Linked DNA regions of Homo sapiens: region 2 is linked to region 1. The links come from fine-mapping of genetic effects on gene expression. A gene starts in region 1. The other region holds a variant in brackets. All regions are shown on one strand. Distances are from middle to middle. Region 1 holds the start of ASS1 (argininosuccinate synthase 1). Region 2 overlaps HMCN2 (hemicentin 2).

What was found. PIP is the estimated chance that this variant, and not a neighbour inherited with it, causes the effect.
Region 2: its variant is fine-mapped to the expression of ASS1 in esophagus mucosa (GTEx, PIP above 0.99).

The regions. Positions count from the first base shown.
Region 1 is chr9:130,435,491-130,451,253 of GRCh38, forward strand. ASS1 (argininosuccinate synthase 1) reads left to right here and starts at 9,471. Exons shown (of 15, transcript NM_054012.4): 1 at 9,471-9,505. LOC124902349 (small nucleolar RNA U13) reads left to right here and starts at 14,366; the gene lies at 14,366-14,465. RefSeq lists a silencer at 9,274-9,393 and enhancers at 10,274-10,941, 11,611-12,278.
Region 2 is chr9:130,345,218-130,360,980 of GRCh38, forward strand. It overlaps HMCN2 (hemicentin 2), which reads left to right. Exons shown (of 98, transcript NM_001291815.2): 26 at 1,949-2,143; 27 at 3,328-3,458; 28 at 3,767-3,914; 29 at 4,320-4,446; 30 at 6,206-6,360; 31 at 7,710-7,988; 32 at 9,546-9,827; 33 at 10,529-10,637; 34 at 10,871-11,040; 35 at 12,617-12,771; 36 at 13,173-13,269; 37 at 14,102-14,197; 38 at 15,211-15,387. Among named protein-coding and RNA genes, the nearest start is that of HMCN2, 87 kb to the left of the region's middle. RefSeq lists an enhancer at 13,667-14,438. The variant G/A (reference allele first, on the strand shown) is at 7,019.

The DNA of each region.
Region 1 (15,763 bases):
TCACTTGCAGTCCTCTTCTGAGCTATCTTTTTCCTGATAGCATCTCCCCTTCTGGGGGATGGATTATTGAAGGCAAGGGCCATTTCTAGGCCCTGGCCTTAATAATTCATCTAATTCATCTACAGGAAGGGCCTTTGTTGGACGAATGGATGGATGGAAGTGTAGTGCAACAATTCCTAAGTAGTCTTTTTTTTTTTTTTTTTTGAGACAGAGTCTGGCCCTGTCGCCCAGGCTGGAGTGCAGTGGCGCGATCTTGGCTCACTTTAAGCTCCACCTCCCGGGTTCACACCATTCTCCTGCCTCAGCCTCCCGAGTAGCTAGTATTACAGGCATGCACCACCATGCCCAGCTAATTTTGTATTTTTAGTAGAAACAGGGTTTCTCCATGTTGATCAGGCTGGTCTCGAACTGCTGACCTCAGGTGATTCACCCACCTCAGCATCCCAAAGTGCTGGGATTACAGGCGTGAGCCACCGCGCCTGGCCTAATTTTTGTATTTTCAGTAGAGACGGGGTTTCACCATGTTGGCCAGGCTGGTCTCAAACTCCTGACCTCAAGTGATTCACTCGCCTCAGCCTCCCAAAGTGCTGGAATTACAGATGTGAGCCGCTGTGCCCGGCCCCTGGGATAGTTTTAATAGGCGGTCAGGGCAGGAGAAGAGGGGACAGCAAGTGTCAGGGCCCTCAGGCAGGAGGGTCCAGCCAGGAGGTTGGGGAGGCTGGAGATGAATGAGGTGGGAGAAAGGGAAGACAGAAAGGTCAAGGGGGTGGGGTGGATCCTGTGAGGTCTTTGGGCCACCACAGGGACTTTGGCTTTGATGAGTGACCTATACAAGAGCACATGTATAGGTAGGTGTGGTGGTGCATGCCTGTAGTACCGCTACCTGGGAAGCTGAGGAGGGAAGACCCTTGAGCCCAGGAGTTTGGGGCTACAGTGAGCTATGATTTGGCCACTGCACTCCAGCCTGGGTGAGAGAGCGAGACCCCATCTCTAACGAAAATGGTTTTTAAGAAAGTCAATGCATATCTGCGTGTTGGCCTATCTCCAGTGTGCTGGGTCTCGGGAGGAGTGTAGGTGAAACGGAGCTTGGCTGTTTATCCTTCTCCTCCCATTCCTGCCCTTCTCCCTGGGCTGGCAGCAGCCCCTGCCTGGTGGCCTCTTTGTTGCCAGCTGCCCCTGACACAGCCTCTGGGAGAGAGAGGTTGTCTTTTGCATATGGTTCTGAAGAAAAGAGTGCCTCTCTCCCTGTTCCTCCTACTTAGTGTGACATGGTCAGCTCCCCCTAATTGTCCCCTCCCTCTCATCTGGGCAATGAGGAAAGTTGTCTGAGTTAGTTCCTTCTAGAGATGAACGACAATCAGGCTGTCTTAACAGAGCTGTTCTGGGTACACAGAGAAAAAATCGCTGTGTCCATTTTACAGATGCAGAAAGGGGGGTACAGGGAGGGAACATGATCCAGTCACTTGACTGAGGTGTGACTGGTTAATGGTCAAACTGGGACTCTTGATTCCCACCTAACAGCCCCAGTAGAACCTTCTCCAGGATGCTTCTTACTGTAGGTTTCCTTCAAACCAGTCTGCAAAGTTTTTCTGTTAGGGGCCAGATAGTACTTTCTGCTTTGCGGGACATTCAAGCTCTGTCAAAATGACTTACCTTTGCCATTGCAGCGCAAAAGCAGCCCCGGAGGACCCATGAACAGATGGGCACAGCTGTGTTCCAATAAAACTTTATTTGTGGACACTTACATTTCAAATTTATTATCATTTTCATGTGCCATGAAATATTCTTCTTTTGATGTTTTTCAACCATTTACAAATGTAAAAGCCATTCTTAGTTTGCACGCAGGCTTTACAAAAACAAGTTCAGACCAGAGTTTGCTGATCTCTGGTTTAAACCACAGAAATTACTGATGATGGAAGTCCAGGCTGGGTGGAGAGATTAGAGGAGGCGGGAAGAAGTGCGGGAGGGGCTTCCCAGGCCCTCCTGTACCCTATTCGTCCAGGGTCCACCTGTGAGGGCCTTCCTTGGGCCGAACGCCCCTCTTTGTGCAACGCCAGGGGTCAACGGGTCAGAACTGGAGCACTGCTCTTCGCTAGGCTGTTAATTTTTTATGGAGCTGGGGACTTTGTGGAGGTGATGCAGAGGCGGAGACCCACAGAGGGGAGGTGCCACTCCTCTCTCACCCCTGCTGTCTCCTGCAGGCCGCTCCCAGTCTCACGCAGGCCTTCCATGTTTGTGAAACTACTACTTGTTAAGTCTTTGTCCAGTGTCTTACAGACTTGAGGTTTTTTTTTTTTTTTTTTTTTTTGAGACAGAGTCTCACTGTGTCGCCCAGGCTGGAGTGCAGTGGCGCGATCTCGGCTCACTGTAAGCTCCGCCTCCTGTGTTCATGCCATTCTCCTGCCTCAGCCTCCAGAGTAGCTGGGACTACAGGCATCCGCCACCAACCACGCCCAGCTAATTTTTTTTTTTTTTTTTGTAGAGATGGGGTTTCACCGTGTTAGCCAGGATGGTCTCGATCTCCTGACTTCGTGATCCGCCTGTCTCATCCTCCCAAAGTGCTGGGATTACAGGCGTGAGCCACCGTGCCCGGCAACTTGGGTTTACTTAGTCCTTCCAGGAGCTCCAGAGCCAAGAAACAGCATCCCCATTTCACAAATGAGAGAAGGAGAGCTCAGAGAAGGAAGCCACTTATCTATCTCACACAGCCTGGAGGGGAAGAGAAGGACTCAGCCCAGGTCCATCTGACTCCAGAGTCCTGGGCTCTGACCACCAGGCTCCCCTGCCTCCACTTTCCAAGGAAGGGGGAAGAGAGAGAGGGCCAGGGGCAGGCTGAAGACAAGGGCCCTTGGCAATTCAAGATGTGAGGAGCTAAAAAGGGAGTGTCTATTCAGCCCCCTGCCTCCCCACTTTTCCCTCCTTTTCCATTTGAGGCTATGGAGCGGAGGCCGGGGGAAAGGAGTGACTTACCCAAGGTCACACAGAAAGCCCAAGGCAGACCAGGCCTTGGAGGTAGATTCTGACCCAGTCCCTTCCTCCCCTACACTCCAACTGCTTACCCCGCCCCTAAGGAAGGTTACCAAGCAGAGGAGGCCCCTCCCAAGCAAGCCACAGCCAGAGCCAGAGAGTATTTTCCATCCAAAAAGGGTGTTTGCCACTTCTTTTTCTCTAGCTGCCAGCTGTCATTGGCCAAGACTCTGTCCAAGCTGCCCAGCCCCCTGGTGCCACCTGACCTCTGCGAGTCTGTTTGCACCATCAGGGGTGGAAAACAGGCCTGCAGGTCAGGCATTGAACTCCCTGATGTGGGTTTTCCACGAACCCAACAACTGGACTCTGTGTTCCTGTGGGCGAGGACTGGCAACCTAGGGTCTGGCCTGGAGGACACTCTCTTTTCCCAGGGCCAATGCCCAGGCTTGGGCAGTGGCAAAGTGGCTTCTGGTGCCAACCACAAGGAGGTTTCAGGGTGAGATCCTTGAAGTCTCTACACACCCAGGCCCCTTCATGCCCAGCAGGTCCAGAGCCCTTGGGTGGCAGAGGCGAGAAACGGAGGCAGGAGGAAGCCCACTCCAGGGCTCTGTACACAGGCTGTATCTATGCCTTTAGGTGGCTGGGGGCATTCGATGAGGTCACATCCATTAAGCTTGCCCTGTAGCCACTCAGACAAGTGGCCACCAAAGTTAGAGCTGAGGCCAGGCGCGGTGGCTCACGCCTGTAATCTCAGCACTTTGGGAGGCCGAGGTGGGCGGATCATCTGAGGTTGAGTTCGAGACCAGCCTGGCCAACATGGTGAAACCCCGTCTCTATTAAAAATACAAAAATTAGCCAGGTGCGGTGGTGGGCGCTTGTAATCCTAGCTATTCTGGAGGCTGAGGTAGAATAATTGCTTGAACCCAGGAGGCAGAGATTGCAGTGAGCCGAGATTGTGCCACTGCACTCCAGCCTGGGCGACAGAGCGAGACTTATCTCAAAAAAAGAAAAGGTCAGAGCTGACTCTTAGAAAAGCCCCCAGCTGCAATGTGGAGCATGGAGCAGAGGGGATGGTGAGCACAGGCAGGAGGATAGGTGAGGTGTCTCCTGCAGAGGTGCATGTGAGAGGTCACAGTCATCCAGGCTAAGATAAGAGCAGTGGGGAGAGACAGCAGGAACCAGAGCGCTCACATTCTTCCATTTTCTTGCTGGAGGCCTCAGCCCTCTGCTCTGTGCCAGTATCAGAGCTTATGACAAGCAACTGATCTGGTGGGGGAGGGAAAGGATAAGAGGCATCACTAAGGAGCAGTGTGTGGAAAGACCACATGGCAAAAAGGGCTTGACACGTTGAAACAACCACAGCCAGGCCGGCAGCAGCAGTATAGTGGGTAAGGGCAGAGGAGGAAGTACAGCCATTGAGATTTGAACCTAAGAGTCATGGGGACCATCAAAACCTTGCTTCAGAAACCATTTTATTCATTAATATTGCAGTACATAGCTCTAAAACTTTATAAATCTTTCAATAAAAATATAACTACAAGCTGGGTGCAGTGGATCATGCCTGTAATCCCAGCACTTTGGGAGGTCGAGGTAGGCAGATTGCTTGAGGCCAAGAGTTCAAGACCACCCTGGGCAACATGATGAAACCCATCTCTACTAAAAATACAAAAATTAGCCAGGTGTGGTGGCATGTGCCTGTAGTGCCAGATACTAAGGAGGCTGAGGTGGGAGGATCACTTGAGCCCGGGAGGTGGAGCTGCAGTGAGCCAAGATCGTGCCACTGCACTCCAGCCTGGGAGACAGAGGAGACCTTGTCTCAAAAAAGAAAAATAACTACAATATCATTATTATTACACCTAAAAAATCAATAGTAATTCTGTCTTGCTGTTATTGAATATCTCATCAGTGTTCAAACTTCCAACTGCTTATAAAAATATTTCTTGCTGGGCGCGGGGGTTCACGCCTGTAATCCTAGCACTTTAGGAAGGCAAGGCAGGCGGATCACGAGGTCAGGAGATCGAGACCATCCTGGCTAACACAGTGAAACCCTGTCTCTACTAAAAATACAAAAAATTAGCCGGGCATGGTAGCGGGCGCCTGTAGTCCCAGCTACTCGGGAGGCTGAGGCAGGAGAATGGCATGAACCCGGGAGGCGGGGCTTATAGTGAGCCGAGACCACGCCGCTGCATTCCAGCCTGGGCGACAGAGCGAGACTCCGTCTCAAAAAAATAAAATAAAATAAAAATAAAAATAAAAATAAAAATATTTCTTTTGCACTTAAAAGAAATCAGTATCTAAATGAGATCTAAACATTGTGATTTATTTTATTTTATTTTTGAGACAGAGCACGTTTTGTGCCCAGGTTGGAGTGTGCAGTGGTGCAATCTTGGCTCACTGCAATCTCTGTCTTGGCTCACTGCAACCTCTGCTTCCCAGGTTCAAGCAATTCTTGTGCCTCAACCACCTGAGTAGGTGGGATTACAGGTATACGCCATGACACCTGGCTAAGTTTTTGTATTTTGACTAGAGACAGGGTTTCACTATGTTGCTCAGGCTGGTCTCAGAGTCCTGGCCTCAGCAATCTGCCCATCTCAGCCTCCCAAAGTGGTGGGATTACAGGCATAAGCCACCACACCCAGCCTTGATTTTATCTTTTATAGCTCTTTTAACCCAAAGATTCCCCTTCTGTTTCTTTTTTTTCTTAAAAATCAATTTGAGATATAATTTTTTCCAGGAATGCAAGGTTGGTTCAACACCTGAAAGCCAATCAATGTAACACACCACATTTATAAAATAAAGGAGAAAATCATATGATCATTTCAATAGGTGTAGAAATAGCATTTGACAAAATTTAGTACCTATTTATGTAAAAATCTTTCAATAAATAAGGAAGAAAAGTGAACTTCTTCTGACCAAAAAAAAAAAAAAAAAAACTATGAAAAACCTACAGCTAACATTGTACTTAACGGTGAAAGACTGAATGAATCCTCTGCCCTAAGATCATGAACAGGGAAAGGATAACTACTCTTACCAATTCTATTCAACATTCTACTGGGGATACTGACCATTGCAATAAGGCAAGCAAAAAAGGTACAAAGGTAATAAAGGGGAAAGTAAAACTGTTTCTATTCATAGACAACATTGCTGTCTACCTAGAAAATCCTAAGGTATTTACAAAAATCTACTAGAGTCAATAAGTGAATTTAAAAAAAGTTGCAGAATATAAACCTAATTTACAAAAGTTGATTTTATATGCCAGGAACAATTGGAAAATAAAAATATCATGTATGATAACATCAAAAAATTAAAATTCTTAGAAGTAAATTTGATGGAAGATAGGCAAAACTTATACACATAAAACATTGCTCAGACATCTAAACCAGGATGGATCTCTTGGTACCTCCACTGAAATTGAAGACTTACCCTGATTTGATGATTACACATTGTATACACGGATCAAAACATCACATGTACCCCCAAAATATGTATAACTAAGATATATCAGTGAAAAATACAAAAAAAAAAAAAAGAAAGAAAAGAAACTGAGGACTTTTATACCACCTATCAAAGATGTCTCAACCTACCAGGTCTTCCTCTCCACTGTATGGAAGACTTAGGCCTTTGCCTGGGCACAGGCCTCCACCAGGCCAGTCATCCAAGGTGTCCAATAAATTAGTCATCTCAGAGCTGGGCCCTGGAGTACCCATACCTGTGACCCCAAGAAACTATCTCTTAAACAAACAAACAAACAGAACCTCTCTGGCTGTTGGGGAGGAAATGTTGGAGGGGCAACTAGGGTAAGTGGAGGAGCCAGCAAAGAGACTTAAGTAAGAAATTATAATGGTCTCAGTAAGAGAAGATGGTGGCCCTGTATGGAGGAAGTGGAAGTGGAGAGAAAGGGGCAGACTTGATATATTTAGAAGATATGAATGTTGTTGGGCACGGTGGCTCACACCTGTAATCCCAGCATTTTGGGAGGCGGAGGTGGGTTGATCACCTGAGGTCAGGAGTTCAAGACCAGCCTGGCCAACATGGTGAAAACCCGTCTCTACTTAAAATACAAAAATTAGCCTGGTGTGGTGGCGGGCCTGTAGTCCCAGCTATTCAGGAGGCTGAGGCAGGAGTATTGCTTGAACCGGGGAGGCAGAGGCTGCAGTGAGGGTGCCACTGTACTCCAGCCTGGGTGACAGAGCAAGACTCCAAATTAAAAAAAAAAAAAAAAAAAAGGAAGGTATGAGTGTCTCAGATCCCAGTGCCTTTGTTTCTCCACCTGCTCAGGCCTAGGTGCTGCTTTGTTTTTAGGAATGCCACCAAGATCACTTACCTAGAAGGTGCAAAGGCTCCTGGAGGACCCCTGACCTAGGTGTGGGCAGGGGGTAAGATGAAAGTCAAAGGCCATGGTGCCCCAGTCTCAGGTGGGGGAATCCCTTTGGGCCACGCCCCACTTTGGCCCTCAGCACTGCTCTGCAGGGTAAGGGCCAGGGCAGGGTTGAAGGTCCCCCTGGCCGATGGAGGGGTCCAGGCAGAATGGGGCTCATTCAGAAGCTGGCCAGTCCTCCCTCACCTTGGTCTCTGCCTCTGGGCAACCACTCACCCTGCTGTTGGTGGCAGGACGGTGGGGGTGGGGGGCGGGGTGCTGCTGGCAGTTTGGGCCCCTGTTTTCTTCTCAGGAGCGCTGTGACCTCACTGTCCCTCATGTCACTGGTGCATGTGAGTTAGGAAGGGTCTGTCCCCTAGGCTGGAACCATTTCTGCGGCAAGGAGTAAAGGTCCCAGCAGCCTGTGACCCTGGGACTGTGACCTCAGTTCAGCTCAGGCTGGAGCTAAAGCAGAGGGTTTGAGCCAGAGCTTCAGACACTGGATTCTAGCTCCGCTCTGCCACTCACATGCTGTGTGGCCTTGGGAAAGATACACCGTCATTCTGTGCAGCAGGTTTCTGCCCATACCATTGAGATAACAATCACAGGTACTTCATACAGGGTAGTCGTGAAGGTGAAAACAGAATGCTTGCTCTTTCCAGGGCGACCCTACCAATGAGAAAACAGGCTGCAGTGGGGAGTGACCGCCCCAAGGACACACAACTGCTGCAAGGGTGTCATTGTGTAGGTGTTCCTCACTTGCCTCCTGCTAGTGTGGGAGGCCCAGAGACTCCACGAGACCCCCAGCTGCTCCTGTGAGAGGGCTGAGGGGGGCCAGCTGTGATACCGCCTCCCATCTAGAAGGGGCCTCAAGCCACCCATGTACACCCAGCCCCACGTGGCTCACCAGGGGCCCCTTTGCCATCAAGGGCCACATCCCAGGTTTAAGTGTCAGAGAACTAAGGGGCTTAAGAGAGAATCGAGCTGTGGCTTTGTTTGTGAATTGGTTTGATCCTTTTTTCCTTCTAGAAGGACTCACAGCTACTGTTGCTTGCCATGGGCTTGAGGGGGTGGTGGGGGCTGACTGGCAGAGGGGCTGAGAGTGGATGGTGATTAAAAGGAGCACTGACTCCAGGGTAGCGGCTGGGCAAGGCTTGGGGCTCCCACCTCCCCCAGGTTCAGAGCCGGCTGAGGACCGGGAGTCCTCCCTTCTGGGGTCAGTGCTCACTATGGAGCAACTGCCTTGGATGGGGTCCCAGGACTTGCTCTTTTACTGGGGCTGTGGTTGCAGTGATCAGGGCTTTGGAGCCGGCAGACCAAGCTGGGAAACTCCTGAGGTAGAGAAGCTGTTGAAGGCGGGCCTGGGGTCACAACTCCCAGCTGCTTTTTACAAGCAAGAGACTTCTCTCTGAACCTCAACCTTCCCTCCTGTCTAGTGGGTTCGCAGCCAGACAGTCTTTTACTCACTGCTTACTGGGTGCCCTCTGGAGTCTGGGCAGGTGCCAGGCTCTGAGAAGACAGGCCAGCAATCAGCCCTGGCCTAAGGGATGAAAGCCGGGCCTTCCCGCGCCGGCTCACCTCGGTTTTCTCATCCTTACTCGGCTACCAGAGGCTATGGTTGGGGAGGGAGGGGGCTCTGGGGGCTGCAGAAGGCCCAGGCTGCCGGCACCGGATAGAAGTGAGCACGAAGCTCCCTGCGCCAGTGGAACTTTTATCCCGGCTCCCACCGCGAAGCGTTTAAATTGCTTCCCCAGGGCCAGGAGGCAAGTCTCTCGAAGGACGGCTGCGGCCACCCTCCGCCCCTGAGTTACATGGGTCGCAGCCACTGCCGCCCTCCTTGGCGCCTCCAGCCCGCGGGCCAGGGCCAGGAACCGCGAGCCGCCTGCGCCCCCGCCGGCGCGCCCCTGGGAGGGTGAGCCGGCGCCGGGCCCAGGCCCGGACCTGGTGGGAGGCGGGGGGAGGTGGGGACGAGGCCTGGGGAGGCGGGCCCCGCCCATCTGCAGGTGGCTGTGAACGCTGAGCGGCTCCAGGCGGGGGCCGGGCCCGGGGGCGGGGTCTGTGGCGCGCGTCCCCGCCACGTGTCCCCGGTCACCGGCCCTGCCCCCGGGCCCTGTGCTTATAACCTGGGATGGGCACCCCTGCCAGTCCTGCTCTGCCGCCTGCCACCGCTGCCCGAGCCCGGTAAGGAGCCCTCGGCCCCTCTCGCTGCCCACTCCCTAGCCGAGAGCACCCGCTTCCCGGGCCCAGAGGAGGAGGCGTAGAAGACGCCCGCCCCGGGGCCCGCGGAGGCAGAGGGCGGACCCCGATCGCCACTCGCCGGGGACTGGGACCGAGGCAGGAGGGAAGGGGCTCCCGATGCTCAAACGCCTGGCACCGGATTCCAGGTTTCTGGAGCGTGGGGGACGCGGCGGGGGCGCGAGTCCCCGGGGGCGCGAGTCCCCGGGTCCGAAGAGCGGCTCGGGTTATTTGTTCCCTGCGCAGCCGGGTCCTTTCTGGACTCCTTGTCGGATCCGGCTTCCTCTGTGTCGTGAAGCCCCCACATGGAGACCTGGGGAGTCCGGAGCGTGTGGGGGGGCTCCCGATTCTCTCTCCCTCTCTCGGACTCGCCGTCTGTCTCCACCTCTATTTCTCTGCGTAAAACCAGGAGTCCAGCCCCTCTGGGGCTTGGACGTATCGCTTTCCCCGCAGCCTCAGTTTACCCTGGACAGATGGGCATGGTGGCCCTGGCTCCCTTCCCTGCAGGGGGCGGCAGCCACCTGGCCCTCCCCGGTGGGGCTGGCGGCCTCGCGGCGGGGTTTCCTGCTGGCCTGGGCTGGGCTCTGTGGGAGGGGCAGTGCCAGGAATATTTTCTATTCGGGCTGCTGTTGCCTTTGGCCCCTGGGCGGCTGCGCCCTCCAGGGAGGCAGGGTCATTGTGAAAGAGAGGAAACTCCTCTCCCAGGCGGCCAGGGCTGTTCCTGAGGAGGGCTGGCCTGGCCTCAGTATTCTTCTCTGAGAAGTGGAGAGTCCACTCCCGAGCAGCCGAGTCAGGCTGCAGGTCTCAGGGCAGGAACAGACCTGTTCTCTCCCCAGGGGTAGATCAAGACCTAGGGGACTTGGGCTTTGATCCTCCCGCTCCCAGCAAGCACAAACCCAGTGATGGGGAGAGCTGGTGAGGCCTTGGCTCAGCCTCCAGATTCCCAAGCTTCCTTTTCATTTTCTTTTCTTTCTAAAAATTTATCAGAGATGTGGACTCGTCATGTTGCCCAGGCTGGCCTCGAGCTCCTGGGCTCAAGCGACCCTCCTCCCTCGGGCCTCCTAAACTGCTAGGATTACAGGCTCGAGCCACCCAAAGTGCCTGGCCCCCAAGCTTCAGTCTGTTAGAGCTGGCTGGGGCTGAGGGCTCAGGAAACATTTGCAGATACTGTGCGGCTGCTAAGGGCTCTGTAGACTGTTGGGTGCTGGGCCTGGGTCCAATTGCACAATAACTGTGCCTGGGGTTAGGTTCTGATGAGAGGGAGGGAGAAGCAGCCACACGGACTGGGAAGCTTGGCTAGGAGCAGGAACTGGAGGAGTCTCCATTCCAAACTCCCTCTCCCTCCCAGACCCCTTAGGCCCAAGGCCTAGGGCGGGGAAGTTTGGGGGTGGGGGCGGGACCCTGTCCTGGCGGGGCCATCTGTGCACCATGCTGAGAAGTAATTCTGGTTCTGCTCTGTGGGGGTGGATCAAGTGAATGAATAGTGACTCCTGCCTGCTGAGCGCCTGGCCGGTGCGGGGGCAGACACGTCGTGAGAGGGAAGGGGAGGCCCCACTCTCAGCACAGTCTCCATTCCTGAGTGCTTGGGAAGCAGGCCCAGGGCCGCAGGAGCCTTGGGGTGGAGCCAGGCCCAAAACAGCCTGCTGCACAAGCGCTTCCCCCTCCCAACCCGGGCCCATCTCATCTTTGGCCTGCTGGGAGGCCAGCCAGGTCAACCAGATGCCTCATCTGAGCACTGACTACACAGTCCCTGAAGTCAGTGGCTTGCCTGTGGGCACCAGGCACCCATGTGGAAAGAGGTAACTTCGCTGGAATTCAGAGTCTAAGGCTCTGATTTCTGATGTAGCTTTGGGCAAAGTTGATCTTCCAGGGCGTGGCTCCCTCCCCAGACTTGGGGTCGACCAGGCACCCATAGGCACTTTGATATGAGTGGAACGAATGAATGAATGTGCCCTTCGTCCATCACCAAAGACAAACCGAGCTCAGCTGAGTTAGAATGTCAGCGAGGGGTTGCAGGGGAATCTTCCACGGGGCAGTAGGCCTGAGCTATAGCACACAGGCTCTCCAGAGAAATAGTGGGCAGGTTGGCCATGACTCACTGGGGGGCTGGTTTTCTGGAAGGTGTGTAGAGTGAAGGGGAGATCTGAGGTCTCCTAGGAGCCAGGGAGTGGAAGGCCTAGTGCAGGGAAGAGCAAGTGGCCTGCAGTCAGGCTGGGTTTGAAGCCGCTAGCTTGTGACCTCGGCTGGCCGCTTAGCCTCTGCCTCCTCCTTTGTAAATAGGTGGTAATGGCAGTCTCCACCTTGAGAGGATGCACCTGTGACTGTGAACATAGTAGCCGCTCTTGTTGTCATTCCAGCTCTGACGTTTTCAAGTAGCACGAGTTTTCCTTAGTGTCAAGTGAGCGCCCAGGCTGGCCTGTTTGCTGGAAGCTGGACAGATGGCTGTGGCTGGGGCCACAGAGAATGCCATCCCAATGAAAGCCAGGTGGCTCTGGTACCTTGACGCGAGGCCACCTTCCCTCCTCCCAGGTGTCTCTTCCGGGGAAGGAGGGCTGGAGGGCAGTGGGCATTTGCCAGGGAGCTGGAGAAACCTGCCGTGGCCCTTTCTGGGGGATGTGGTGGGGGTGGAGCTGGGACTAGGGGAGGCTGAATTCAGCCAGGATCTGCCTGCCAGGCGCAGCTCCCAGGAAGAAAGCCCAATGTCTGGGAGGGTCAGAACCCAGAGGGCTGTCAGGTTGTACAGATGAGGAAATTGAGGCTTAGCAAGCCAGGAACTTGGCTGAGGTCAGCCATAGCAGCGGTGCACAGAGCTTAGTGGGCACATACATGCTTGGTGCCCAGCTCTGGGCTCCTTCCCCCAGCATCTCACCCAATCCTTACAGTCGCCCTGTGGGGAGCAGGCTGTTTGCACCCCTATTTTGCAGCTGAGCAGTTATGCTAGAGAGCTGAAGCCACTCAAACCCATGTCTGGTGGACTTGACCTCTGTCCTGTGCCTGGAGTGAGCGCTCACTGGATTGCAGCTGTGGTTCCTTCTCTCCCTGTCACTTCCTCCCCCGACATCAAACCCTCAGTTTCATTTAGTTTTTGCCTCGGGCTGCAAATGCAGCTTAGGGACCTGCGGAGGCTGAGGGAGGGGGGTGCCCCACCCGCTGCTGGGAGGGCAGGAGCAACGCTGCTGTCTGATTGCATCATTTTCCCAAGCCCATCTGCCCAGCTCATTTCTCTGCATGCATACACTGGCCCCAACACCCACACACGTGTGCATGCACACAGGCACACATGTGCAAGCCCAAACACATCACACACATGCATGCACACACATTGTGTACTCTCAGGTACGCACCCCTGGGTGCACACAGGTGTGTGCGCGCGCACACACACACACACACACACACTGTCTCAGGTACACACGCCAGGTCCATGCATTGCTTCACACTGCCCAGCCCCAGAGGCTGAAGGCCTCAGAGCCCACACCTGCCCAGCTACAACCTGGCAGGCAGGAGGGGCTCACTGGTTTCTTTTGGTTTATTTAAGACAGAGTTTCACTCTGTCACCCAGGCTGGAGTGTGGTGGCACGATCTTGGCTCACTGCAACCTTTACCTCCCAGGTTCAAGCGATTCTCGTGCCTCAGCCTCCCAAGTAGCTGGGACTACAGGTGTGTGCCGCCACACTCAGCTAATTTTTGTATTTTTAGTAGAGACGGGGTTTTGCCACGTTGGCCAGGCTGGTCTGGAACTCCTGACCTCAAGTGATCCACCCACCTCGGCCGTCCAAAGTGCTGGGATTACAGGCATGAACCACTGTGCTCGGCCATGAGAGCATGTGTAGGACTCCACAGCTTCAGGGCACCCCAGCCCTCTTTTTGCGGTGAGGAGCTGACCTCCAGAGAGTGGAACTAGTAGCATTGTTCTAAGTGCCTGCCACAGGCATCTGGGAGATGGTCCCTGTTTCCATGGAGCTCATAGTGGGGGAGAGGGCAGTTAGAATACAGCATGATGGCCGGATGTAGTGGCCCATGCCTGGAATCCCAGCACTTTGAGAGGCTGAGGCAGGCAGATCGCTTAAGTCCAGGAGTTCGAGTCCAGCCTGGGCAATGTAGTGAAACCCCATCTCTACAAAAAATACAAAAATTAGGCAGGTGTGGTGGCATGTGCCTGTAGTCCCAGCTACTTGGGGGTGGTGGCACTGAGCTGGGATGGGAGGATCCCTTGAGCCCAAGAGGTGGAGGCTGTGGTGAGCTGAGATTGCATCACTGCACTCCAGCCTAGGTGACAGAATGAGACCCTGTCTGAAAAAAAAAAAAAAAAAAAAAGGATACAGCTCTGATGGGCAGGAGGCATGGCGGGTCACTGAGGCGATGCAGGTGATCCAGCTGTTTCTGTGGAGCTGCCCCTCCGTGTTTCTGTGGAGCTGCCTCTCTTGGCTCCAGGTGCCTCTGGGAGGAGGCAGGAGCAGGGGTGACTCTCAGAGCTGGGTGAATCTTGGGCCAGCATCATCAGATCACACTTGCCCAGGACTTCCCTTCCTTGAGTCTCCAGTGGTGGTCTTGTACCTATGAGCAGGGGGTTAAGGAGCCGAGCTGATCTGAGTTGGAGTCCTGGCTCTGCTGCCTACCAGTCAAACGAGATGCAGGGCAAGTTCCTCAGCCCAAGCCTCAGTTTTCCTGACTCTAAAATGAAGAGAACCCCAGATGGAAGGGCTTAGCCTAAGACGGACATGTCTATTCCCTTGATTGTGGTGTTGATGTCACGGGCGCATCCGCACGCCGAAACTTGCTAAATTGGACACAAAAAAATATGCGATTATTTTTGTAGTTGATGAATGTGCTGATTGGGTATTCTCGTGTGTGTGTGAGGTGCCACCCTCAAACTTTGTTATGATGTTGGCACATTACCCATCTGATATTTAAAAAATGCAATTTATGATATGTCAAGTAGACCTCAATAGAGCTGTTTTAAAACATACAACAGAATTTCCCGCAACCCAACCACACCACCCGCGCCATCACACGCAAACAGGGGTAGGCTTCCACATATTTCCTGAATGCCTTCTGGAGCAGGGGGCAGGAGGCAGGAGGCAGGACAGGTGGCTCTGGGGCTCCTGGACCTCCTCTGCTCAGTGAGGCTGCTCACAGGAGATTGGGCGGCTGGAAAGTAAGGTTTAGGGCCTCTGGGATGGCCCAGGCTACCTGCAGGCAGCTGAGTAGCTCTGCTTTTGCAGAGTGGTTCACTGCACTGTGAAAACAGATTCCAGACGCCGGGAACTCACGCCTCCAATCCCAGGTACTGCCCACCTTAAGTCCTCCCTGCCTGCCTTCCTCCCTCCTTCCCTCCATCCTGCATGGCCAATTGCCTGGCTGCAGTTGCCATGGATACCACCTGCTGGCTCCAGGGTTAGGGCTGGCTGAGTCACCAGCAACTCAGGGGCAGGGGGTTGAATGCCCAGTAGGGACGTTGTGGGCACCGACCAGAACCATCTTCTCTGCCCCAGCTGCATGGTCCATGAGGTGTTTCCCCTTCTAAGTCCAAAGGGCAGCACAGGCCTGTGAGCCCCGGCTGACTGGCAGGTGGGACCGTGCAGCATGCACGGGACTGAATTCTCATGTGACGGAGCTCCAAAGTCCACCTGGCTACACGGCCAGGCTCTGCAGCAGAGGACGGGAGGCCTGGGAAAGGCACTTCCTCTCCCCGAGCTTCCAGGCACACAGAGAGTGCTCAGGATAGCGATGCCTGCATCACTGCAATGGTGATGGCCGGGTGACCCTTCTGGGCTCCACTTCCCCAGTAGTGTCTAATAAAGACCCTGGGTGACTCTGACCTTGTGACGTTGGTCAGACTCCAGTGGAAACGTTCCCAGGCAGAACAAACATGCCCTGTACATTTGGGAAATGCGGGATGCTGGGGCCAGGTGTCCACGGAGGCTGGAACCAGGAGGCCTGGGCCCACATCTGCCCCTGCTGCTTGTTGATCCGATGACCCTGGGCAGGTGACCTCGTCTCCCTAACCCTGGTTTCCTGTTCAGCAAATTGGACACAGTGAAGACGCCCAAGCCCAGGGCCACAGGAGGCATGTGGGGGAGGGGGGTGCAGGGCGAGCCCAAGGGCAGCCCAGGATTCAGGGAGAGCCCTCGGGGAAGAAGCATGGCTGCAAAGATCAGGAGACAGGAGGCCTTGGCGCCTTCGGGAGGCTTCATTGTGACGGAG
Region 2 (15,763 bases), 90 kb before region 1:
TGTGTGGTGTGTAGTGTGTATGTTGTGTGTGGTATGTGTATGGTGTGTGGTGTGTGTAGTGTATGGTGTGTACGTGGTGTGTGGTGTGTGTGTTGTTTGATATGTATGCTGTGTGTGTGTATGTTTGTGGTGTGTGGTGTGTATGTGGTATGTGTGGTATGTGTAGTGTGTGGTGTGTGTGTGCTGTGTGTGTATGTTGGTGTGTGGTGTGTGTAGTATGTGGTGTGTATGTGGTGTGTGGTGTGTATAGGGTGTGGTGTGTGTGTTGTTTGGTATGTATGTCATGTGTGGTATGTGTATGGTGTTTGGTGTGTATAGTATGTGGTGTGTGTAGTGCTTGGTGTGTATGTTTGTGTGTGGTATGTGTGTATGGTGTTTCGTGTGTGTAGTGTGGTGTGTGGTGTGTGTATCGTGTTGTGTGTGTGTGGTGTGTATCCCCACAGTGGGGAGTGGGGGTAGCAGCCCCTGGCGGTGGGACATTCTGGCCTGCATTCTGGGCAGAGGATTCCAGAGGAAAACGGGCACAGGGGGATTCAGTAAGTTGCCCAAGGACACCCAGAGCGTGGGTGGACATGGAGCAGGGCCCTGGGCCCTCCCTGTCCCTCATGCCAGCAGGGAGGGTCTCTGGCACTTTACGGTGGGCGGTCAGGGTAGGGCGGAGGGGGCAGGGCAGCCTCCTGCAGAGATGATGCCAGTGTGCCTTCCACATGCCATGTCTTCCCCGCCACCATGCTTACTGGTCCTTCCAAGGATGAAAGAGTGAGCGGCCCACAGCATAAGTGTCTACCCCTGGGCCCCCGCTGCCAGGGGCGGCCCTTTCTGATGATAATCAGTGTTAGCTACAACAGTCCTGATGACCAGCGGTAGCAGCAGAAGGCGGGTGGGAGTGACGTGCCGATCTGCAAGTGTGGGGACCCCACAGGCTCCCCTGAGTCAGCGCTGGCGGAGGTCAGGGGGCAGGTGAGAGCTAGGGCCAGGATGGCAGCAGCAGAGTGTGTGCCTGGGGCTCACGCTGCGACCTCTGGGCAGTGTGCCTCAAAGGGGTCACTTGGAGGACTGGGCTGTTAGCTTCAGCTCACATAGGACCCCCTCTGGGCAGGTTCTGTCCTTGGGGCCCGTGAATGAAAGCTCCACTCCAGCCCAGTGGGCAGCTGTTTCTGGCACACCTACTGTGTACCAGGCTGTGTGCACAGACCAACATGGGGCGTGTCCTAGAGATCAAGGGGCTGGGGGATGTGGCACTCACGGTGGGGCTGGAGGCAGGGGGGTGTGGCACTCACGGTGGGGCTGGGGGTTGTGGCTGGCAAAGTGACTGACCCAGGCTTGTGGAGGGAGGAGCAGGAGCAGGCTGAGCAGAATTGGGGCCTCCCACAGGCCCTAACCCCAGGGCACAACGCAGGGTGCTGGAGCACGGCAGGCTTGGCTCGTTCATTGATTTAGTGCCTACTGTGTGCCGGGCACTGTGCTAGAGGCTGGCGGTGGCAGCAGGGAAAAAAACAAAGAGCCTGGCCCTCGTCGGGTGGGGGACACGGAAAAGAGACAACAGAGACCTGGAGCATAGACGCGTCCTCTGATCACTGGAAAGTGGAGGACGACGGCTGAAAAGCAGGGAGGGCAGGGGCTGGGGGTGCCTGTTGGGGTGCAATTCTAAATGAGGGGACTGGGGACTTGCTGTGAAGAGAACCAGAAAACAGGCCTGCAGTCCCCGCCTTGGTCCCTCAGGGACCCTAGGAGGCTGTATGGATGGGCAGTGTGGGTAGGTGGCGGGTGTGGGGGCTCCCACGGCTCCGAGGGAAATGCTCCTTCCAGCCTCGGGGGGACGGAGGTGCCTGGAGTCATCGCTGGACCGTCAGCCCCTTTTGCACAGGAGAGACATGTGGGAGACAGTGCAGGTGTGGAGGGGAAGGTGTCAGGGTGTTTGTACTGATGACTCCATGCACCCTGCCAGGAACGCCCAAGCCGCAGGTCACATGGAGGAAGGGCCCGTCCTCGGAGCCCCTGCATGGCCAGCCAGGTGTGGCAGTGCTGGAGGAGGGGTCTCTGTTCCTGGCCTCCGTCTCACCTGCGGATAGTGGAGACTACGAGTGCCAGGCCACCAACGAGGTGGGCTCCACGTCCAGGAGAGCCAAGCTGGTGGTCTATGGTGAGCAGGGACCCAGAGCTGGGGGCAAGAGAGGAAAGCGGCAGGGACCCAGAGACGGGCCTGTCTTCCTCCCAGGACCGCATCCGGCCAGAGGCCCACAGTGAAGCCGGGGGTCTGACAGTACCACGGCGTGCCCAGGTGTGGCAGTGCCAGTTCCCCGGGGCCTGAAAGCTTCCTACACAGGAGAATCAGGTCCTGCCACCAGGTGCCAGTGACAGGGAGGGCTTGAGGGGGCTGGGAGAGTGGCAGGTTGCACTGTACACCCCACTTCCCTAGAGAGACCCCCACGGAGACAGTATGGGGGAAGCACCTGGAATTCCATCAGTGTCTTTGAGATTGGTCTAGAGGTGAAGGCATTTTAAAATGACCCCTTGGCTGGGCATGGTGGCTTGCACCTGTAATCCTAGCACTTTGGGAGGCTGAGGCAGGAGAATTGCTTGAGCCCAGGAGATCGAGACCAGTTTGGGAGAGAGAGACCCTGTCTCTACATAAAATAAACTTAAAAAATTATTTTTAAAAATGAGCACGGATGGCAGTGCAGAGCCCCAGAGCCCACCTCCGGGTTAAAACTGTTACCCCTGGTCTCTTCTCACATTCTTGTCCTCAGCAGGGAGAGCGCCCACCCCCACATCCAGGGTGCTATGTGCAGAGGAAAGGAACCCCTCCTTAACACGGGCAGTGTGGGTGGGCTGGGGAGTGGTCTCTGTCGGCAGGATGAACTGGCCCCGCTTGGGCAGTTCTACCAGCTCCTAACGCCACCTGCTGCTTCCCCAGGACCAGCTGCTCTGGCTAGCCCTGTAATGACTTGCTCAAGACATTTGTTACAAAAGCGTGGCCAGGCCTCACCTTCAGAGATTCTCACTCAGGGGGACCCTCCCTGGTCACTGTGACACCAGGTTGGGTGTAGAACCAGATGGATCTAAGGGGACTCCAGCACCTTGCAAAGCTGAGAGTCAGAAAGGGTGACACCTGGGCCTGGGCACGACTGGGGGTGTGTGGGTCCCAGGGCAAGGCTGCTGCGGCCATCTGCAGGTCCACAGGACCCTTTGTGGCTGGGCGGACGGGGACAGGCAGACCTTCTCCAACCCCAGTGACGAAGGGGAGGGAATGGCCCAGATGAGGTCCCTTCGGCTGTGGCTCTAAGGGGGCAGGGAAGCAGCTCCTCGGCTCTCCTTGCCCCCAAGTGCCCCCCAGCATCCGGGAGGACGGGCGCAAGGCCAACGTGTCGGGTATGGCCGGGCAGTCCCTGACGCTGGAGTGTGACGCGAACGGCTTTCCAGTCCCTGAGATCGTGTGGCTGAAGGACGCGCAGCTGGTGGGTGTCCCCCTAGGGTGGGCGGGGTATGGGTGGGATTTAGGCTGGGGACAGGTCTTCTGGATGGGCATTTCTGCGTGTGCCAAGGTGGGGCAGGGAGATGTGACAGGTGTCTTTGGTGGTGCTCTGGGGTTCACGGCAGTGGAGGATAGTGGTCATGTAGTGAAGCCTGGCAGGGGCTGCGTGGCAGAGAGCATGGCACCGTTCTGGCCACTGGCCACCTCTCGGGCCTCAGTTTCCTCATTACTGATGCTGGGGGTGGTGGCTGGATCCCCTCTTACTGGCTCCCTCTGGCCTCTCCTACCCAGATTCCTAAGGTGGGCGGCCACCGCCTCCTGGACGAGGGCCAGTCCCTCCACTTCCCCAGGATCCAGGAGGGTGATTCTGGGCTCTACTCCTGCCGGGCAGAGAACCAGGCTGGCACCGCCCAGAGGGACTTCCATCTCCTTGTGCTCAGTGAGTGAGACCTGAGCCCTGTAACTCCCAAGTGTGTCTGGCCCTGTAGCCCCAACTCTTGCAGGCACACCGGGGGAGAGGGTAGACTTTGCCTGCGGAGAGCAGGGGGCACAGAGGGACCCATGACAGACCCAACCCCCATCCTCACAGAGCTATCAGGCTTGGGGGACAGACATCAGACAGGTGAATAGCAAAATCATTACTGTCACAAGTGCTACCAAAGAACAGTCTGGGTGCTGAGGGCTCCAGAGCAAGCCCTTCTGGCCAGGGTTTTGGGGGGCTTCCCAGGAAGGTCAGGTAGGAGGGGGGCCCAGGCTGGGGGGTCTGCACAGACAAAGGCCCCGTGGTAGGCGGGGCTTGCAGGGTTTGAACAGTTTCCCACCCCTCACGCCTTCTCACCCCCAGCCCCTCCTTCCGTGCTTGGAGCCGGGGCCGCTCAGGAGGTGCTAGGATTGGCCGGTGCAGACGTGGAGCTGCAGTGTTGGACCTCAGGGGTCCCCACGCCCCAGGTGGAGTGGACCAAGGACAGGCAGTGAGTGCCCCCCTCCCCGAGGATGGCGTGTGGTGGTGCCCAGACTCAGCCTGCTGGATGTGGGGGTTGGGGAAGGTTGAACTCTTCTTGGGGAGCTGACAGGCATGGCATGTGCCACCCAGGGCCCAGACTGAGGGCTGTAGGGGCGCCTCCCACCCAGCAGGAGATTAGCCAGGGAGACCCCACTCTTACCTCAGCAAAGTCTTCTCATCTCTTAGCCTTTCCTTTTTTTTTTTTTTTTTTTTTTTTTTGGTGACAGGGTCTTGCTCAGTTGCTCAGGTTAGAGTGCAGTGGAACGATCTCAGCTCACTGCAGCCTCAAACTCCTGGGCTTCTTGGGCTCAAGAGATCATCCCACTTCAGCCTCCTAAATAGCTGGGACCACAGGTGTGCGCTACCAACAACGGCTAATTTTTTAAAAAATGTTTGTACAGATGGGGTCCTGCTTTGTTGCCCAGGCTGGTCTTGAACACCTGGCTTCAAGCAATCCTCCTGCCTTGGCCTCCCAAAGTGCTGAGATTACAGGCATGAGCCACCGTGCCCAGCCTCTTTTTTTAAACTCACTTTTTCTCTAAGTAAAATTCACATAATGGGCTGGGTGTGGTGGCTCACGCCTGTAATCCCAGCATTTTGGGAGGCCAAGGCGGCCAGATCACCTGAGGTCAGGAGCTATCAGCCTGCCCAACACAGCGAGACCCTGTCTCTGCTAAAAATACAAAAAAATACAAAAAAAAAAAAAAAAGAAATAGCCAGGCATGGTGGCAGGCGCCTGTAATCCCAGCTGCTTGGGAGGCTGAGGCAAGAGAATCACTTGAACCTAGGAGGTGGAGGTTGCAGTGAGCTGAGATCAAGCCACTGCACTCCAGCCTGGGTGACAGAGCAAGACTCCGTCCAAAAAAAAGTCCACGTAACATACAATTAGCCATTTTAAAGTGTACAGTGGGCCAGGTGCAGTGGCTCACGCCTGTAATCCCAGCACTTTGGGAGGCTGAGGTGGGCAGATCACGAGGTCAGGAGATCGAGACCATCCTGGCTAACACGGTGAAACCTCGTCTCTACTAAAAATACAAAAATATATATATATATATACGGGCATGGTGGCGGTAGTCTGTAGTCTCCTGTAGTCTCCGCTACTTGGGAGGCCGAGGCAGGAGAATCACTTGAGCCCGGGAGGTGGAGGTTGCAGTGAGCCATCGTACTACTGCACTCCAGCCTGGGCAATAGAGCAAGACTCAGTCTCAAGGAAAAAAAAAGGTGTGCAGTGTAGTGGCATTTAGTACATTTGCAGCATGGGGCAACTTTCACTTCTATTTAGTTCCTGACATTCCATCACCCCAAAAGGACACCCTGGACCCATCAGCAGCCAGTCGCTGTCCCCTTCTCCCCAGCCCCTGGCAACCACAAGCCTGCTTTCCTTCTCTATGGACGTGCCTGTTCTGGGTACTTCACATCACTGGCATCATAGAGTGTGTGGCCTTTTGTGTCTGGCTTCTTCCACTCGGCATATTTTCCAGGTTCATCCATACTGTGGCAAGTGTCAGAATTGCCTTCATTTTTGTGGCTGAATAATGTTCCGTGGCATGGACGGACCACACGTTGTTGATCCATTCCTCGCTTACTGGGCCTTTGCATTGCTCCCACCTCTTGGCGCTAATGAATGGCCCAGCCTCGCTTTTTACAAGCCACACACTCCCTGTGTGCAGCGTGTCCCATCCAGCCCCTCGGCCTTACTGGCGCTTTTCCCTTGCCCGTCTCTCCAGGCCTGTCCTTCCGGGAGGCCCTCACCTGCAGGTCCAGGAGGATGGCCAGGTTCTCAGGATCACCGGCAGTCACGTGGGGGATGAGGGACGATACCAGTGCGTGGCCTTCAGCCCAGCTGGTCAGCAGGCCAGGGACTTCCAGCTCCGAGTTCATGGTGAGCCCCCACGCCTTCTGGGACCCCGCCACAGGCTACTCAGGAAGCTTCCCACCCAGCTGCCCGCTGCCTTAGAGGGAGAGTGAGGGCTGAAATGGGGGACCTGGTGAGTGATCCCTGAGTCCAAGAAAGCTGGGGGCTGGGGTCGGGGTTGGGGTCAGGGTCAGGGGATAGAGGTTATCTGGCCCAGCATTTTCCAAATCCGTGGTTTCCATCCCAGCTCTAAAAATTTACTACTTATGTTTTTTTTTTGAGATGAATTCTCTCTCTGTTGCCTAGGCTGGAGCGCAGTGGCACCATCTTGGCTCACTGCAACCTCCCCCTCCCAGATTCAAGTGATTCTCTTGCCTCAGCCTCCCGAGTAGCTGGGATTACAGGTGCCCACCACCACACCCAGTTCATTTTTGTATTTTTAGTAGAGGTGGGGTTTCACCATGTTGGCCAGGCTGGCCTTGAACTCCTGACCTCAAGTGATCCTCCTGCCTTGGCCTCCCAAAGTGCTGGGATTACAGGCGTGAGTCACTGTACCTGGCCCAAATTTACTACTTCTGATACCACTTGGAATTATGATTTACTTTTCTTTAAATGAGTCACACTTCCTTACACTGAAACACATTTATTTAAATATCCCTTATTCTTATAAAGGATATTTAATATC[G/A]AAACTGTAAGCAGAAAACCAGTTTCGCTTGGCTAAGGAAGCTGAAAAAACAAACACACCCCATAGAGCAATGTTGTAAATTCTCGAGGCGTGGACTCCGCAGAGGGCACCCAGCCTGCATCTGCACTCTCTGTGCTAAAAAGCGGAGAGTAGAAAGTGCTAGAAAGGTTAGGGACATGCATAGTAGCACCAAACGGAGCCTTTCCTTGCTGTAACCCGGATAGAAGGAGATTTGGGAGGGGCGTAACCATTCCATTCTGAGATGCAGTTATTTCATGCTGTGCCCATGTGCCCCTAGCATTGTCCTGGGTAGCATCGGTGGTGAGTGACCAGCCCTGTGTGAAGTCCTCATCTAGTCCAGCCTCTCATTTCACAGATGGGGAGACTGAGGCCCAGAGAGGGGAAGTGGCTCACCCCTGGTCTTCCAGTATGTTAGAGCAGAGCAGGGCCCAGAATCCAAGCCTGTGGCCCCGCCCCCACCTCCTGCACCTTCCACACCAGCATGTCCCCATGCTGGCCTCTCCCATCTGTCCCCAGACCCCTCCCCTCCTTGTCCACCATGCCTTCCCTGCCCCCGCAATGGAAGCCTGTGGTGTGTCTTGTGGCCCAAAGGCATGAGTCTGCTGCCCTGGGGAAGATGCCAGAGGCCTCAGCGGCTGCCTGTGACCAGCCCCACCTCTTTCCTTCTCAGCGCCCCCCACTATCTGGGGCTCCAACGAGACAGGCGAGGTGGCCGTCATGGAGGACCACCTAGTGCAGCTCCTGTGTGAGGCTCGAGGAGTGCCCACCCCAAACATCACCTGGTTCAAGGACGGGGCCCTGCTCCCCACCAGCACCAAGGTGGTCTACACTAGGGGCGGTCGGCAGTTGCAGCTGGGGAGGGCCCAGAGCTCCGATGCCGGCGTCTACACCTGCAAGGCCAGCAATGCTGTGGGGGCCGCAGAGAAGGCCACCAGGCTGGATGTTTATGGTGAGCAGCCAGGGGCCACGGCAGCCGGGGTGGGCAGTGGGAGGGACTCAGCCATGGTGGCCCCTGCCTGTCTCCAAAGGAAGGCTAGGTGGCCACTTGGAGTGGTCAGAGGCAAAAGGATAATGGGACCAAGACATTATCTAGGGAGAAGGGTCCTCCCAGCTTATGTGACTTCCCTCATACCTGTAAGGAAACTGAGGCCAGGAGTGGAAGGGCCTGTCTAGGAGGCCATGGCGGAGCTAAGTGTAGAATCCAGGTCTCCCCTCATGGTGTGGGGCTTTTCACTAAACCATGCCCAGAACCCTGTGACCACCACAATAATTAACTGCCCTCAGCTCATCACTTCTGTAAGCTAGACCAGAGGGGCACTTTGCAGCATCAGCTCATTTGATCAGCTGGCAAAGGGACTTGAGCTCTCATGTCCCCAGTTACAGATGGTCGCAGTGAAGCTCTGGAGCAGAGAGGTTTCCCCAGGTTCACACCCCTAGGAGGTGGTGGAACCCGGTCCTTACGCGGGCAGATCTGACTCCAGACCTCATGCTGTGAACCTCAGCATCAGCTCAGCCCTGAGGGGCTTGGCTCTGGGGACTTTTGAAGGAGAACTCAGAGGAAAGGGTGTCGGTGGCTCTGGATGGGTCTGAGCAGGGCCCCGGTGAAGTGTGAGAGGGCAGCGTGCAAGCTGATAGGGGTCAGCCTGGCCCCCCGTGGGGAGTCACTTTGGGAGCTCTGGCTTCCAAAGATGCAAAGGGCTTGGGTACTGGAACCTCAAAGGGCAGCTGAGCTGCATGGGCTCCACGGCAGCCTCTGAAGATGGCCCCGCCGCTAGCTCAGGGAGTCTTATTTTGGGACCCGAGGTCCCCCAGGAAATGAAATAGAAAATGTGTATGTGTATGTTTTCATTAAATTTTCAAAGCGTCTTACACCCAAATAAGGTTAAGAAGCATCTCCCAGGCCACGGTTGCCCCTTGTGCCCTGGTAATGGCTTCATCAGCTCAGCAACTTGAGGGTCTCCTTGAGGGTAGGAGAGAAATTTCCCCTTTGGCGTGGCCACCATGGGCTCCAAGCATAGTTAACATCTGGTCCCCTTGGCCATCGCTGGCTAAGTTAGGAGCCCCCCAATCCAAGCCATCTGGGCTCAGGTCTGCCCCAGTCTTCTGCCTCCTGAGACCAGGGAGGGAGGGGACTTCCAGGAGCAGAGCTCTGTCCCGGCCCTGGGGGTCTTATTTGAGTCCAGCAGACACTGGACCTGCTGTGTATAGGCACTGGGGATGCAAGTAGGCCGGCCGTCTTTCCACTCATGCTGGGCTTGCCGGGGTAGCAGCGGGGATGGAGAGGCAACAGTCAGCACCCAGGGGTGGGGTGGCGCGCCCAGGGGCTGAGGAGGGTGAGAATGCTGCCCCGGGGTCTGAGCAAGGGGTTCAGCCACTGGAGGTGAGGGAAGGAAGTGTTTCACATGGAGTGGGGTCGGTGAGGGGCTTCAGCGGGCCTGTTGGGCTGAGATGAGAGCAGGCTAGCGTCCAGCTGTGGTCCCCAAGCCGCCCCCTGCCTCTTTTCCAGTCCCACCTACCATCGAGGGCGCCGGTGGAAGACCATACGTGGTGAAGGCTGTGGCTGGGAGGCCTGTGGCGCTGGAGTGCGTGGCCAGAGGCCACCCGTCCCCCACCCTCTCCTGGCACCACGAGGGGCTGCCCGTGGCAGAGAGCAACGAGTCGCGGCTGGAGACAGACGGGAGTGTGCTGAGGCTGGAGAGCCCGGGGGAGGCATCCAGTGGCCTGTACAGCTGTGTGGCCAGCAGTCCTGCCGGGGAAGCCGTCCTGCAGTACTCCGTGGAGGTTCAGGGTGAGCCCGGCCCACCCCACTCAGAGCTGCCTGGGCTGTGGACGTCTGCCCAGGCCTGCTGCGTGCTTGTCCCGAGAGAGCTCCTGGAGTGGAGGGAGGGTGGGGAGAAGTAACCAGTGTCCCCACATTGCATGACACAGATGAGGACGCTGAGGCCTGGGCTGTGGGGCCGGCAGGGCTAGGAGTGGGCAGGGTGGAGCCCCAGGATCAAGGGTCCCTGACTGTGCCCAGGACCCTGGGCTGGGTCACCCAGGACAGAGGACCTCGTTCTGCCTTCTGCCAATGGAATGGCCCTTTACGGAGACTTTCCTAAGGCCGGCTTGTGGGTATGGTCCCAGCAGGGCGGGTGGGGCCTTCGCCTGCTCTTCCATCCATTGCTGAAGCATCTCAGGTCCTAGTGCTGTGTTGACCCCAAGCGGCACTGGAAATGAAGCTGGGAACAAGGCCAACCGGACTCCTGAGCCCTCAGTCTGCCAGGGAGGCAGATGTTAAATAATTAGGCCCAAGCCTTTGGGGAGCCCGGGGTGTCCCCTTACCCGCCTTGGGTGGCCCTGGAAGGCCTCCTGGAGGAAGGGCCACTGATAGGGAGACGTGAGGGTGAGGTGCAGCTGGGCCTCGCTTGGAAGGCTCTGGGGACTTGGGAGGGTTTGAGGCCAGTGGCTGCTCAGCTCCAAACACCCAGGAGTGTGTTCTGCCTGCAGTGCCCCCACAGCTCCTGGTGGCTGAAGGCTTGGGACAGGTGACCACCATCGTGGGACAGCCCCTGGAACTTCCCTGCCAGGCCTCAGGCTCCCCAGTACCCACTATCCAGTGAGTCTGGGGTGGTGGAGGCCAGGGCTGGGGGTAGGCAGAGAGCGTGTGCTTTGCGGATTGTGGGGGGAAGTGGACAGGAGAGAGGCTTCCTGTTTCCAGGAGTAGGAAAGAGGCCTGGAGCCACGGCTGGTGAGAGCAGGTGGGAGGAACTTCTAGGTTTCCTGCTTGTCCTGCCTGGCCTGGCCTTCCCTGGTCTCAGGTTGACACGCCCCCCTCCCTACTCACCTTAGGTGGCTGCAGAATGGCCGCCCAGCCGAGGAGCTGGCTGGGGTGCAGGTGGCCTCGCAGGGGACCACACTGCACATTGACCATGTGGAGCTGGACCACTCAGGCCTCTTCGCCTGCCAGGCCACCAATGAGGCGGGCACTGCCGGGGCCGAGGTGGAGGTGTCTGTGCATGGTGAGTGGGCGCCTGGGGTTCTGGAGCTGTGGGCAGCCTGAGATGCCAGGGGTGGGTGGAGCCTGGGCTGTGGCAGGCCTGGAAGGGCACGGGGCTGGTCTTTGCTGGATGGCGTTTCTGGGCTGGACTTCCCAGTTCCCCACAGAGACGCAGGTGTGAGAGGCTGGCCGGGCCACTTATCACACTTATCCTCAGTCCTGACCAGCCCCTAGGCCTCACTCCTCTCCCCAGCTTCCTCTCTGTCCATCTGCTGAACTTCACTTAGTTCTTTTAATATATCAACCCTCTTTCTCTTGTCTTCGTCTACGTTTGCTGTTCCTTCTGCCCAGAACTTTCTCCCTCCTCTTTGCCTGCCTAGCTCCTTATCTTTCAGGCATATCCTGAAATACTTTTCCTCCAGGAAGCCTTCCTTGATTCTACCATGTTTCTCATCTGCACTGCCCAGCCTCTCAATGCCTTAGCCCTCCAACAACTACATTGGGATTGCTTATTTGGTTGTCCATCTCCACTGTCCACCTCTGTGAGCTTTGAGAGGGCAACATGGTAGCTGCCTTTCCCTGACTGTGTCCAGGGGCCCAGTATAGTTCTGGCCACAGAGTAGATGCTCAGCACACATAAGGATGCATGGATAGATCAGTGGGTGGGTGGATGGATGGGTGGGTGGATGAATGGGTTGGTGGATGAATGAGTGGACAGATAGAAGGGTGGATGGATGGATGGATGGAAAGGTGGAGGGATGGGTAGATAGATGGAAGCATGGGTGGATAGAAGGGTGGATGAATGGGTGGACAGATAGAAGGGAGGATGGATGGATGGATGGATGGATGGATGGATGGATGGAAAGGTGGATGGATGGGTAGATAGATGGAAGCATGGGTGGATAGAAGGGTGGATGGATGGGTAAATGGATAGATGGGTAAATGGATGGATGGGTGGATGGATGGATGGAAGGGCGGGTAGATGGATGAATGGGTGGGTGGGTGGATGGATGGAAGGGTGGGTAGATGGATGAATGGGTGGGTGGGTGGATGGATGAATGAGTGGGTAGATGGATGCATGGGTGGGTGGGTGGATGGATGAGTGGATGAATGGGGGAGTGGATGGAAGAGTGGGTAGATGGATGGATGGGTGGATGGATGGATGGAGGGATGGATGGATGGATGGAAGGGTGAGTGGATGGATGAGTGGATTGATGGATGGGTGGGTGGATGGATGGAAGGGTGAGTGGGTGGATGGCTAGCTGGATGGATTGGTAGATGATGGATGGGTGGGTGGATGGATGGAAGGATGGATAGACAGAAGGATAGGTAGATGAATAAATGCATGAATAGATGCATGGGTGCACAGATGGTTGGGAGAATTTTTAAAGAGAATAACTTCTCTGCTGGCTCCCAGTCTAGAGCTCTTTCCCCTAAGCCATGCGTCTAGGGGATATGGTGGGCAGAAGCTAGATGCTAGCCTTTGGCCAGCCCTTCAAGGGCACCTTCTCACCCCCAGGCATCGAGGGGGTTGCTGGGTGCCCACTGTACTCCTCCTGATTCTGACTCGGGCTCTTCCTGACTCTTTCCCTTCCCAGAGTTCCCATCGGTCAGTATCATTGGGGGTGAGAACATCACAGCTCCTTTCCTGCAGCCTGTGACCCTCCAGTGCATAGGGGATGGGGTGCCCACCCCAAGCCTCCGTTGGTGGAAGGATGGTGTAGCCCTGGCAGCCTTTGGGGGGAACCTACAGGTATGTGCAGGGGCCCCAGGGCTGGCAAGCCAGCTGGGCACAGGTGGAGGGGCTGCTCTGGGGGCTTCCTGGAGACTCTGAGCAAATCCCAGCAGGCTGGGCATAGGAAGGGCCCAGAGCCCTCTCAGCCTGAAAGGGTGAGCCTCAGCCTCTTCCGGGTCCTAGGAGCTTCAGTTGTCAGAGGGAGAAAATGTCAGTGGGGGGGACAGGGAATGGTATGCCTGGAGATCGGACGAATCCCTGGAATCCAAGTGCTTGGCTCATAACTCTACCTCCAGAGCCAAAAGTGTCCCCATGCCTCACTGCTCCTGCCCCCGGGCTCGGCAGCAGCCTGGCCACTCGCCATGTCCCGTCATCACTTGGACAGCCCTGTGGCATACTCTCTGCCCCCTCCCCTCCAGATTGAGAAGGTGGACCTGAGGGACGAGGGCATCTACACTTGTGCTGCTACCAACCTGGCTGGGGAGAGCAAGAGGGAAGTGGCGCTGAAAGTTTTGGGTGAGGACGTGGGTAACCAGCAGGGCCCAGGCCAGCATGTTGGGTGATCCCTTGGGGACCCTTGGGGCTGAAGTGTGTGGCGAGGGAGGGGGAGGAGGTTTTTCAGTCATAGTTGTGCACTTAACTTCAGAGGAAGTAGAAAGCCCTGAAATGAAAGTGTTAGCAATAGCTGTGTAGTCCCTTTTGGCGGGATTTTTTTTTTTTTGAGATGGAGTCTCGCTCTGTCGCCCAGGCTGGAGTGCAGTGGCACTATCTCGGCTCACCGCAAGCTCCGCCTGCCGGGTTCACGCCATTCTCCTGCCTCAGCCTCCCGAGCAGCTGGGGCTACAGGCACCCACCACCACGTCTGGCTAATTTTTTTGTATTTTTAGTAGCGACGGGGTTTCACCGTGTTGGCCAGGATGGTCTCGATCTCCTGACCTCGTGATCCGCCCGCCTCGGCCTCCCAAAGTGCTGGGATCACAGGCGTGAGCCACGGTGGGATTTTTAGTGGAAGACCTTGCCCACATTCATATTTACGTTTGCTTATTTTGGGGGTTTATTTGCAGGGAAATCCTCGTCCTTGTCCCTTCCCCTGGCTGTGCTGGCGTCGGCTGTCCTGGGGTGGGGGCTGGGTGCTGTATGATTGCCGTAAGGATGGCAGCCTGTTGCTCTTTGTTCTTGGGCTTGCTTCCAGGAGTGAGGTTGCTTAGTCTGAGGACATGAGCTGTTTTAGAGCCCTTAGTCTAGGATTTTCTATGGGGAGCAGGGAGCAGCACTGCTGGGATGGCTGGGATTAGAGCTGCCCAGAGCTTGCACCTACCAAGCTGGGTCTCTCCTTGTCTCCCCCTAGTGCCCCCCAACATCGAGCCAGGCCCAGTCAACAAGGCAGTGCTGGAAAATGCCTCAGTGACCTTGGAGTGTCTGGCTTCGGGCGTGCCCCCTCCTGGTAAGACCCCTCCTCTTGGCTGAAAGCTACTTCCAGCCCAATTTACTGTCTAATGAGGCTGGCGAGTGACCCAGGGACTCTCTGATTGGACATAATGGGGAGAAATCATCAGGTCTTTCCCCCCCGTTTCTCTCATGTTCCTCTCTTCCTCTTCAACAATGTCCTTCGGGCCAAGGCCATGTTAGGGTCCAGAGCCAGTGTGAAACAGGCCTGCAGGACATCTACTCACAGTAAGCTTCACAGGGCTGTCCGGGGCTAGGGGCGAGGATCAGGACCTCAGAGTCACCATCTGGTCTGTAGGGTCCTCCCCTCTAGACCAGAAGTGGAGGAAAGGGCCGGGAGCTGGGGGCTGGGTGTGGGTGTTTGCATAGGGGACTGGGTGAGGCTTACGGTGGCCCAGGAGGAAGGCCTCTCTCCTGCTCCCATCTGAACTAGGCCCACCCTGCTTTGCTTGTTGCCTGTGAGCCCTGGGGATATTTGCCCCCTCTCGTGGGGATGCCTGCTGAGTTCCGGGGACATGTCCCGGCAGGATGCAGGGAAGCTGCAGATACACGCGGTCCAGCCTGGCTTTGAGGCTGCTGCTTTGGGCTGGTCCATGTTCTCTAATGCCCCCTAGGGGACGGGGTCTTCTGGTAGGGGGAGGGCAGGGCTGAGTTTGACTCTCTCTGCTCCTGGCTGCCTCAGCCTCTGCCCACGGGGCTTCTTCTCCACCCTTGGTCCTGTCTTGGGCAACATTGCCCGGTTCCATCCCGGTTCCCTTTCCTGAATGAAGAACTCTGACCTTCTCCAATGCCTGAAAAAATAGTGTGGTCACCCTGGAAGTTTCTCTTGGGTGCCCACCACACCAGCAGAGTCTGACGGGCTGGCAGCACCCTTGCTTCTCTCTTCCATTCCCCCTTGCATCTCTCTTCCTTTCCCCCTTGCATCTCTCTTCCTTTCCCCCTTACTTCTCTCTTCCATTCCCCCTTGCTTCTCTCTTCCTTTCCCCCTTGCATCTCTCTTCCTTTCCCCAGATGTCTCCTGGTTCAAGGGCCACCAACCTGTCTCTTCATGGATGGGAGTGACAGTATCAGTGGATGGGAGAGTTCTCCGCATTGAGCAAGCCCAGCTTTCTGATGCTGGGAGCTACCGCTGTGTGGCATCCAATGTGGCAGGTAGCACAGAGCTGCGGTATGGCCTACGGGTCAATGGTGAGCTTCCCTGGGCCTACAAGGTCCCTTGTCCAAAAAGTTGTCTTTTCATTCATTTGTCTATTAGTCTGTCCATCCACCTGTCCACTCATCCATCCATCTACCACCCCATCCATCCGTTACCCCATCCATCCATCATCCATCCAACCATCCATCCATCCATCCATCCATCCATCCATCCATCCCACCCATCCATCCACCCATCCACCCCTCCATCCATCCACCCATCCACTCATCCACCTATCCACCCATCCATCCATCAACTCATCTATCCATCCATCCATCCATCCATCTCTCATCCATCCATTTATCCACCCAACCATCCTTTCATTCATTTATCTACCCACCTGTCTGCCCACCCATCCACCTGCCCATT